Regions from separate parts of the Homo sapiens genome. Here region 2 is reported to be linked to region 1. Evidence: microRNA targets listed by miRTarBase, many of them from high-throughput screens and not tested one by one. Region 1 holds a microRNA gene; the other region holds the end of a gene's coding sequence.
Evidence for each region. Region 1 holds the annotated microRNA hsa-miR-101-3p (UACAGUACUGUGAUAACUGAA, at 2,450-2,470, shown strand). A microRNA usually pairs through its seed, bases 2 to 8, with sites in the 3' UTR of a target mRNA and lowers its output. Matches are read on the target gene's strand: a 7mer-m8 pairs with bases 2 to 8, a 7mer-A1 pairs with bases 2 to 7 and ends in A, and an 8mer does both.

Region 2: miRTarBase lists SMARCD1 as a target of hsa-miR-101-3p. Seed matches in the 3' UTR shown: 7mer-m8 at 2,912-2,918.

Annotation. Positions count from the first base shown.
Region 1 is chr9:4,847,896-4,852,966 of GRCh38, forward strand. It overlaps MIR101-2 (microRNA 101-2), which reads left to right and starts at 2,402; the gene lies at 2,402-2,480. It overlaps RCL1 (RNA terminal phosphate cyclase like 1), which reads left to right. Exons shown (of 9, transcript NM_005772.5): 8 at 1,552-1,655. LOC124902113 (a long non-coding RNA gene) reads left to right here and starts at 2,472. Exons shown (of 2, transcript XR_007061402.1): 1 at 2,472-5,071.
Region 2 is chr12:50,098,439-50,103,509 of GRCh38, reverse strand. It overlaps SMARCD1 (SWI/SNF related BAF chromatin remodeling complex subunit D1), which reads right to left. Exons shown (of 13, transcript NM_003076.5): 12 at 4,695-4,796; 13 at 2,803-4,563. The coding sequence ends at 4,510. Among named protein-coding and RNA genes, the nearest start is that of GPD1, 3.0 kb to the left of the region's middle. RefSeq lists an enhancer at 443-492.

The DNA of each region.
Region 1 (5,071 bases):
ATCTCTCAAGGGCTGGCTCAAGTAGTCCTGAGTCCTAAAGCCCTCCTCAGGTATCTGGCAGGTGACACCTCCCCCCAGCATAGGTAGGGTGATAGCCCCTACCACTTCCTCCATGATGTCCTGTACAGGGACCTTAGCTATCTATTACATTAAAATACTGGTCCAGTGAATGGTGAAATAACAACAGTGATAGGAAGCAGAGACTGAAGAGAACACTTTAATTTTAGGCTGTCTTATGAAAGGGAGCAAGATCTATAAAACAGTTTTGTTGGTCGTCATATTTTCCATGGGTCAGGTTTTTCTTTTTGGGTAGAAAAGGAAAAGGAACTCTCCTTGTCCTAGAATTTGCTATGTGATCTAAATGTTGTTTTCTGTCCTTTATTAACTAAGGTAGTTTAGGGACGTGCAATAGATTTTCATAAAGGCTAGCAGTAAGATCAATCCTTATTTCCTTCACCATTATTAGGGCTACTAAATGATATCTGACAGCCAGAGAATTTCAGAGTGTCTGTATCTGAAAATGGATTTATTTCCTACCCTACATGCCTTAAAAAGGAGGCAGGGGCAGTTGTAGCCATATGAACCACACTGCTGGCCACCTATCCTGTTCAGTCTAGCCTTGGATAGTAACGTGCCTTGGTCAGACTGGATTTCTAATTTTGACCTGTGCAAAATATGTAGAAATTCAAGGTCATCCTTCTTTGACTATGTACAATATGTTTTAAAGTTATTCCAGAAAGAATGATCAGAAAGCGTGTTTGTATGCTTATGTATGCGTCTAGTGGAGGCAAAACAGTTAAAATGGCTGAGAAAATGAAAAACAAAAGAAGAAAGGCAACCTAAGCAGTTGTACCTCAGGAGAAAGTGTTTGAAGAGAAGTCTGTTCTGCTTGTTAATTTGGAAGAAAGGGAAGGAAAAGGGGGTGGAAGGCATAATTTTATACATAAGTAGTAAGAATAAAGGGATCTAACCTTAACAAGTCTTCAGTTTTAAGGAACTCAGGAAGAGATAAAGGAGAGAAGTTAATAGAGTATGGCAAGCAGTTTCCTGAATGTATTTGAATAAGTGTAAAAGTAAGGCCATGAAAAGGCCGTTTCATGTCAGATAGACTGTGTTGTTCTGTGACAGATTCAATAAATATGAGCGTCATCCACTTAACCCTTGGAATTAACTCTACATCTTCTAGAACTGATTAAGATTTTTTTTTTTTTGCATATACTCAATAAAGATGATGTCCTCCTGCTGCTGCTTTAATGATAAAGGGAAAGTTTCATTTTTTTTTTTTTTTACTAGATTCACTTAAGAAGATTTGAATCTGATAGTCTCATTCTGATAGTCTCAACTATTACAGTTGCTCTAATTAACTGTTAGTTTAACCCTCTACAGTTAGTTGATACAATGATTACTCTTATAAGACCTGTATTCTGTTTTATTGTTGCTTGAACTTTGGATTTTGATATTATGAGTGTATGTTTCTGGTTTTTTTTTTCCTCCTCTCTTTTGTTGGCTTTCCATTTTCTGGTTTGTACAATTATTAATTTGTGTTTACAGGGTGGATGCGTAGACTCGACCAACCAAAGCCTGGCGCTACTACTCATGACCCTTGGACAGCAGGATGTTTCCAAAGTCCTGCTAGGCCCTCTCTCTCCCTACACGTAAGTTATTCTTTTTCAACCTCGTTATTCTGTCCAGTGTAATTTTCTCATTGCCCAAAATGACAAAGGGTGTTGTGCTGCACAGAGCCTGCACTATGAACACCTGCTTGTGTTTATCCTCAAATCAGCCAGCAGTTGTCACTCTTAACCTGGTGTTTATTTTTACATACAAGGATTTTTGCATTTCTTTCCTTCCTTAATCCCAGGTAACTGAAATTGCATGATCTCTATTGGGCAGTTATTTTGTTCGTGCTTTAGATTTTGTTTCCAGGTTAGAGGTAAACTCCTGGTTTGGTGTAGCTTGGATTTTATTACTAGTTTTTTTTTAATCATTCTTTTCCTTAGCTGTCTAACTTGCTGTGGGAAAACAGGCTTTTTGTCTAAGATGATAGGATATGAGCTCACTGGGAAAGATGACAAAAGACAGAGTTTGTATTAATGCTACTGGACTAGTAGGGAATTGTAGAAGTGAGTTTGGATTGTTGAATGTTAGCAGAAGTTGACTGCTGTGGTGTAAAAGCAAGCACTCTTCAAAAAGAACAGTGTCAGAAGACTTGAATTATAAATGACACTGTGAAAGAAGCATTTCCTATTGATAGTAAATGAGGTTGCGGAAAACAGCCTATTTGAGTACTGACATTGTGTGTGTGTGTTTTCACGTGCTTGCATACTTGGAGATCATCATATGGCCCATCTGAGGTTGGTGAGCTGGGTGGCAGGGAATATTCAGGTAGATATGAGACTGAACTGTCCTTTTTCGGTTATCATGGTACCGATGCTGTATATCTGAAAGGTACAGTACTGTGATAACTGAAGAATGGTGGTGCCATCACATTGAGAAAGGGTTGAGGACTGCGGTGGGGCTATGCACCCTTGGGCCATGGCGTTGGGGGCATGAAAACCAGGAGCTTGAAATAAATTCTTATGGAGGCTTTTTTTTTTCTTTTTTTTTTTTTTTTTGGAATTCGTGGTGGGAGGTTTTTTTAGAACAGGAAAATGGAAGAGAATACATTCTGTTAGCAGAGAGGGAAGACTGATAAGCAGGAAACTGGTAAGGACCACATTATCTCCTGATAGCTTGTGTAAAAGTATTTCGTAGGACAGGATACCTAAAATTGAGTAATCCTAAATGGCGTGGTAACATCAGTAGTAAACAATGCTAAAATAGACTTGGTAGTTAAGTACTTGGAGAGGAGATGAGGGCTGGAAGAATGGCACCCTAGGTACAGAGACTCGCTTCCTGTAGAGAGCTCACTGGAGGCGGCTGCCAGCTGTGTGGCCACTGTGGCCCCACCGGCTTTGTAGCTGGGCTCGTAGCTGCCGTTTCCCAGCCCTTGCTTCAGGCCTGGGGAAGTCCTGCTTGCACACACGGTATGAGGTATGGGGTGTTGTCTTGAATGTGTGTGGTCCTGGGGCATGGGGTTTGGCAGAACATTCTGTGAAAATGGAATACATATATGTTTTTTTTCGTGACACTTTTTTTCTTTTGCTTTTGGAGATTTTTCAATTTGGCTCCAGGACCTGTATGATGTTTTCAAGCTTTGCAGAGATGCTCAAGATATGACTGGACATTTTTGAAAGTTCCTGTGTCCTCTTCAACACATCTTCTCACCAAACATTAATTGTAGTGTCTTTTCTTCCAGAAAACTTGCATAAAATGACTTCCTCTCCTGTGAAAACAGTGTCCTGCTCTGAATGGAGCTTTAAAGGAGTAGCACAAATTGTAAGATGATGTATCTTGAGGCTGGGGCTTAGAGATATTCTGCTGCCTCCCAGAGCTTTGTGCAGACGGGTCTGCCAGGGTGGGAAAGGGAAGCCTCCGTTCTTTTTGGTAAGCTAGCATAAAGACAGGTAAGGGAGTCTATTTTCAAGAAAGCTGGATCTGTTTCATACTCTTTCTGCCCCTAATCACTATGGACAGCTCCAGCAGCACAAAGAGATGAAGGGCAAAGGCAGGATGCAGCAGGCAAAGTTAACATTGTATTTGTGAGTACAGTTGAGGATAAAAAAGGGATGAAATCCACGGTGAGGACCATCATGGTGGGGGAATAGTTTATTCTAATGGATTCAAGAGCTTTGGAGACCAAACTAACACATTTATTTTTATGTGTAGTTAAAGTCATAGAAACCTGTTTTGTGAAACCTCAGATTTCTAAAGAAAACCAGAAGCAAGACCTTCCTTGGTTTAAAAAAAAAAAAGCATTTCTTCAAGCAGTTTGGACCTGTTTTTCGTGTGTATAAAACAGCTTTTTAAATGTCTATGTAAAGAGCATTGGGATTGCTGTTGGTGGTTTTCTGTGCTACTTGAGAAAGTAAGTCTGTATGTGTGAAACTCTTTTTTTTTTTTTGAGACAGAGTTTCGCTCTGTCGCCCAGGCTAGAGGGCAGAGGCGCAATCTCCGCCCACTGCAAGCTCCGCCTCCCGGGTTCAACGCCATTCTCCTACCTCAGCCTCCCGAGTAGCTGGGACTACAGGCACCCGCCACCGTGCCTGGCTAATTTTTTGTATTTTTAGTAGAGACGGGGTTTCACCATGTTAGCCAGGATGGTCTCGATCTCCTGACCTCGTGGTCCACCCGCCTTGGCCTCCCAAAGTGCTGGGATTGCAGGCCTGAGCCACCAAGTCCGGCCAATGTGAAACTCTTTTAGAAAGGCCCAAGAGATTTTTTTTCAGTAGAATAAAATACTGTTGGATAATCACTGGTATATGAAGATTCTATTTCTGTTAAATTTGTTGAGTTTTAGGTGGCTTACAGTTAGTGACAGTAGTTGCACCCTCCATTCAACAAGCTTAATTTTACAGTTTAGGGAGGGAGGATTTATACTTTTGGATTAACAGCAAGAAAAATAGCAAAAATTAAGATGCATCTTAATTAGCACTTTCAGAAATTATTTGTGGAATGAGACTGCAGTTACCAGAGCTCTCTGCATTCTGCCAGTGCACAAGTCTTGGAGTCCAGCCTATCTGGACTTAAGGCTCTACCACGCGCTACCAGGAGACCGTGGAAATGGTATTTAGCATCTTGGAGCCTTGGTGTCATTTGTAGATAAGGTGCGTGGTCCTGAAGTCCTGGACTTGTGGAGATGGAACGAAGCTTAGATTAAGTCAGATGCTTAGTGCTCCTGGCAACGTGCCTGAGGAGCTGTCAGTGCTGGGTGCTGTGGTTCCTGCCTGGACACCCCTTCACCCTGCTGCAGTCCAGTCCCTTGGTCAGGTCACTTTTTTTTTTTTTTAACTGCTCCTTGAGGAGCAGGACTACCCCAGAGGCAGTGTGGCTAGAGTAGCCCGGTCAGGTCACTTTGAACCCCAGGAGGCCTAGTAAACTTGCTTTGGGTGATTTTAGGGTTTAAGTCATCTGTAAGTGGTCTGCCCAGCTACCTATAAATCTATATCCATTAATTTTAAATTATGGATTA
Region 2 (5,071 bases), not on the chromosome of region 1:
AGGGCTGGGGTGGGGGATGTGGGCCCACTTCCCACCTCTAAAGATGAGGCCACATAAGAGGTAAGGGCCTGCTTTGAGGACAGCCCAGCTCAAAAAAGGATGAGAGACTCCAGGTGCCTCAAAAGACAAGATTGTCTTGGTCACCCACAGAGGTCATCTTGGGGACTCATCCATGGGCCTCTCAGATGATCCCCACCCAAAAATGTGTTCTAGGGAAGGTGGGAAAGGTTAAAGTTAGAGAGCTCTGAGAATTGCGGTACACAATTTTGTTGTAGACTCTGGGCTTAAGAGGACAGGAGAGAATAGGAGGCAGGCAGAGTGCACACTGTCCTTGAAAGGCTTTGAGCCTCCTTCAACTCCTCCTCTCAGGGGTTTCCAAGGTACTGCCCCAGGGGCTTCATCAGGTGAATGGCTAGTTTGCAGAGGCCAGAAAAGGGGAAGGCAGGCAGTACCCGGGGCAGCTGTGTCCGTGGGGCTTTGTGGTCTCAGATGCTGTGATTGGGGGTAAGTTTGGTGTATGTTTTTTGGGGAAGGGCGAGAATGGAAGGAGCACCCTCAGCAGTTCAGGGCTCTGCATCGCCCACGGCCATCTGTTTGTCTAAGACGAGGGAAGCTCTGGTTTCCAGGCTGATCTGGAGAGTGGAGCAAGAGGCTCCTAACACTGTGCACCTTGGCCTAGAGGGCAGACACCACTGTGTGCTCATGTGCTGACCTCCTGGCTTGGCAGACGGCTAGGTGGGTGTTGCCATCCCCCTGGGCTGTTGCTGGCCAGCAACTGGTAACAAGCACTGGGCTACAGGGGAGTCTGTGTGCAACCCATGGGTAGGAGTAAGCAGGCAGGAGGTCAAGACTGGGGAGAAATGGCTTTCTAAGTTCCGGGGACTGCCCAGGAAAAACCAACCATATTCTCCTTCCATGGCCAGTAATTTCCCATAGGGAAACGGACATGAAATCAGTAGTTGGCTGTTTTTCTTAGCACAATGTTATACCTAATACAGAAACAGCCTCCCACAGACCACTCCTTTATTGCACTGGCACTGAGATGAAGGCTCCAGTGCCAGGCTGCCAGCTGGGAGCACTGATTACGGGTGATGGAAGAGAAAGGATGCTTCTGTCCCTGGCACAAATGATGGGAGCCCCAAAGAATGGATGTTTATGCATAAAATAACCCCCTTGTTTTTGCCTAAATGCTTCCCTCTCTCATTTTGCCCCTACAATCATTTTAGATAGTGTGGAGACTAAGAATGTGCTCATTTACATGGGAATAAAGAGGGTGCAGAGATTCAGAATCGGCTCATCACAGGAAGTTATCTGTATCACTAGAGCTCTTTTCCCAAGAGCAAACTGTAGATTTGCTTGAAATTAATAATGGTTCATCAGCCATTCATTACACATGTAATTAGCCTGGGTAAAAACAGATGCCATTTCAATGTCCTTGACATCAATTTTCTCCACTCCTAGTTATCGGCCCAACCACTCCTCTCTGCTTTCCCTTCTCAAGTCTGATAAACCCCAAGTTCCGGAGTAGGAACAGTGGTTGGATTTTTTGGTGGGTTTGATTACATATATTGAACAGGCAATACTAGAATGTTCCCATCCAAACAGGCAAAGGATAATTTTTAAACTACAACTTTGGAAAGTGGTTGTACTCTGATCCTATATTCCAAACCCCATTCTTGCATAATGACAAAGGAAAAAAGTCATGAGCCTCCAAGTGGGAAGCAGGCAGAACTGCAGGCGAGTTTCAAGTGATTGCTAATGGGAATCCCTCCTGAGCTGTCTTCCAAACTCTGCCAAGGAGGGGCTAGTTGTCTACAGTATGAGGATGACAACACAGAACTTCCATGGTGCTCTTAAGAACCAGCTACTCAGGAGGCTGAGGCAGGAAAATCACTTGAACCTGGGAGGCGGAGGTTGCAGTAAGCCGAGAACGCGCCATTGCACTCCAGCCTGGGGAACAAGAACACAACTCCATCTCAAAACAGGCAAACAAAAACTGAACTCTTATTTGAACCATGAAAGCGGAACCTTAGAGTAGCAGGCACAGGCTGGGCACGGTGGTTCACACCTGTAATCCCAGCACTTTGGGAGACCGAGGCGGGCGGATCACGAGGTCAGGAGATCGAGACCATCCTGGCTAACACGGTGAAACCCTGTCTCTACTAAAAAATACAAAAAATTAGCCGGGCATGGTGGCAGGCGCCTGTAGTCCCAGCTACTCGGGAGGCTGAGGCAGGAGAATGGCGTGAACCCAGGAGGCAGAGCTTGCAGTGAGCCAAGATCGCGCTACTGCACTCCAGCCTGGGCAACAGTGAGACTCCGTCTAAAAAAAAAAAAAAAAAAAGAGTAGCAGGCACAAAAAGCAAAAATGTCTTTGGTCGTCCAGATCCTGCCCACATCTAAACAGAAGCCCTGGGGAAGAAGTGAAACTCCTCCAAAGGCGGCTCAGGTTCGTCAAACCTAAGGGATCACGGGCATCTATGGCTCACTCCAGCCAACAAGTGCTCTGGGGAGCTCAGATGGACAAGGGGGAAAATGACTGCCACCAACCTGTTAGTACCTGCCTAGCAAGTCGGGAAAGGGCTCTTAAGATCCAGTGGTGAAGCCCAATAATCCCAACCAGCAACTAGGCTGCTTGGACCACTGGGGCAGACAGCAATCTCTTAAGGTAAGACCCTGAGGTCCACAAAAGTAGAAATCTCATTTTCCACTTTATCTCCCGTGTCTAGCATCACAACTAGCACATAGCAGGTGCTCAATAAATACTTGTCAAATAAAATGAACAAACACTACAAGCGTGGCTAATGGTATTGAAGGAAGAAGAGCTCAGGGAAGAGCTCTCTCACAGTAGGTAGGAGGACCCATCCTTCAGAAGATTCTTTTATTAAAACTGGGTAACATCAATAAGGGGACAGTACAAAAAAAAGTTTGGTCCATGAAAAAAACAATTCAGTTAATAAAAACAGTTATCAACAGGGACACTGTGGGAAGTACTGAGCTTCCTTCTCATGGTTCCAGCCAGGAGGCGGCCAGGGCTCAGCTGCCCCAAGGTTGTCCAGTGTCAACCTTTCAAGGGAGGGAAAATGGCAGGAAGGGGAAGACGGGGAGAAAATTCTGCTGTCCCCAGTGTAGAACAGGGAGGGATTTGGGGGTGGGGGTGTGCTCGCAGGAGCCTGAGGAGGGGGTGGGGAAGCAGGGGCTTTGTCAGTTCTGTGGGTTTAGAGCCCATGCTGAACGGAATTCCCCCTTTGTGCCCAGCTGTCTCCCACCCTTGCTGTGTTGAGTCTGCGAGCCTGGGATATGCTAACTCGGGGGTGATACAACCTGGAAGAAGAATGTGAGGCTCTCCTGGAAAGATGCAAAAACCATCTCAGATCCAAGGGGCCAAGATCACAAGGTCCTGCTGCTACCTGAGGGGTCTGAAGCTTTGAGGGCAGGGGCTGGGGAGTCACAATCCTGTGAGGCAGGGAGAGGGAAGAGTCACAAACCCAACTCAGCGCTATTCTCCAGCCCTAGGCGCTTTCACTCCTCAGTGCCCTAGAAGTCACCAGTAGGTGTCAACTGGGCAGACAAGGGACAGGAAGACAGGGATGGCCCAGGGCTTTTTACCCGTTTGGTTTTAGGCCCGTTTCTCCATTAAGGGATGCAGAGGCAGGGTGGAGTGAGTGAATGAATGAGTCACATCTCCAAACAGCAGGAAGGAACAGCCTCTGCTGGCAATGACAGTTCCCCAGATGAGATCCCTGGGGCTCTGAAAGGGAAAGGCAAGATTCCCCCACCCAAATGCCCGGGATTAGGGCAGATCTGAGGGAATCACAAAGGGCAGCCACAGGGAGTGTCTGGGAGGGAGCAATAAAGAACAAAACTCCAATACTGATGTGGACCCCAACTAAGGAGTGAGAGAAGCACTGACAGCAGGCCAACCCAGAGGGCTGGGGACTGACCTGGGGCTCAGTGGAGCCCAAGAACCAGGGTTTCTGTAGTGCTACAGGGCAACAAGTGAAGGGAGAGTTTGTTCCAAACCTGTGGAGGGAAGGAAGGAAATTGGATTCTGTTATCAGGAGAGCCAAGATCAACTAGCTTATAGAGTGCCCACAGGCCTGAGTCTTGGAGAAGGAGCGAAAGCTCCCAACTCCTGGGTCTCTGAAGGGCAGGATCAGTTAGCTGGTCCCCTTGAAGACCACCTGGCCTGAGGCCCAATCCATTCCAAGCACTCATTACCACTACATGTTCTCTCTCTAACACTATCTAGAGGTCCTATGTAGACCAGGGGAGGGTACAGGCACATGGGAACTTTGTGGGGCAAAGGGAAGCTGGGGGTGGGAAGAGATAGGGTGAAAGAAGAGGATAACAGGTGTCTTGTGAGACCCTCTTCATTCTGGTGTTGTCCTTGAACCAACAGCATCCCCTGGAACGCCCCAAGCAAGACCAAGGCAGATACTATGAGGCAGGCAGCACAGGGCCCAAATCAAGAATTGGTGCAGTCGAATCAGGGCTGTGGGAGAGGCCCTATGTATTCCGGATTCCCAGGGCTTGCTCTAATTCTTGTCGTCTCTGCTGCACCTAAGGAGAAAATAGTGAAGGGAGTGGAAGATGAGACAAACCAGAAGTTGGTATCTAACACCACTGACCCCCATCAGGGGTGAAAACCCCGTGCCTTTTGTCAATTTCCCCCGTGCACCCCATGTACTTACCTTGGAGTAGAAGTATCGGCACACAGCCTCCTGAGCCCAGGGCTGGAAGTAGAACTCAGCTCGGCGCTCCTCCTCTGGGTTACCCACCACATCAGTCATTGTCTGAGGGAAATGGAGATGCAGGGTGGAGGAAGAGAGAGGAGAAAAGGCTTGTTTCCTTCCTTCACACCCATTATTGGGTAAATTGTATCCTTCCCCAAAATGTTGAAGTCTAACCAACCCCTAGTACCTGTGAATGTGACCTTATTTGGAAATAGGGTCTCTACAGATGCTCAAGTTAAGATGAGGTCATTAGAGTACCCCCTAATATGACCGGTAGGTTCCCTTATAAAGAGGGGAAATTTAGACATGGAGACAGACACATACAGAAGGAAGAC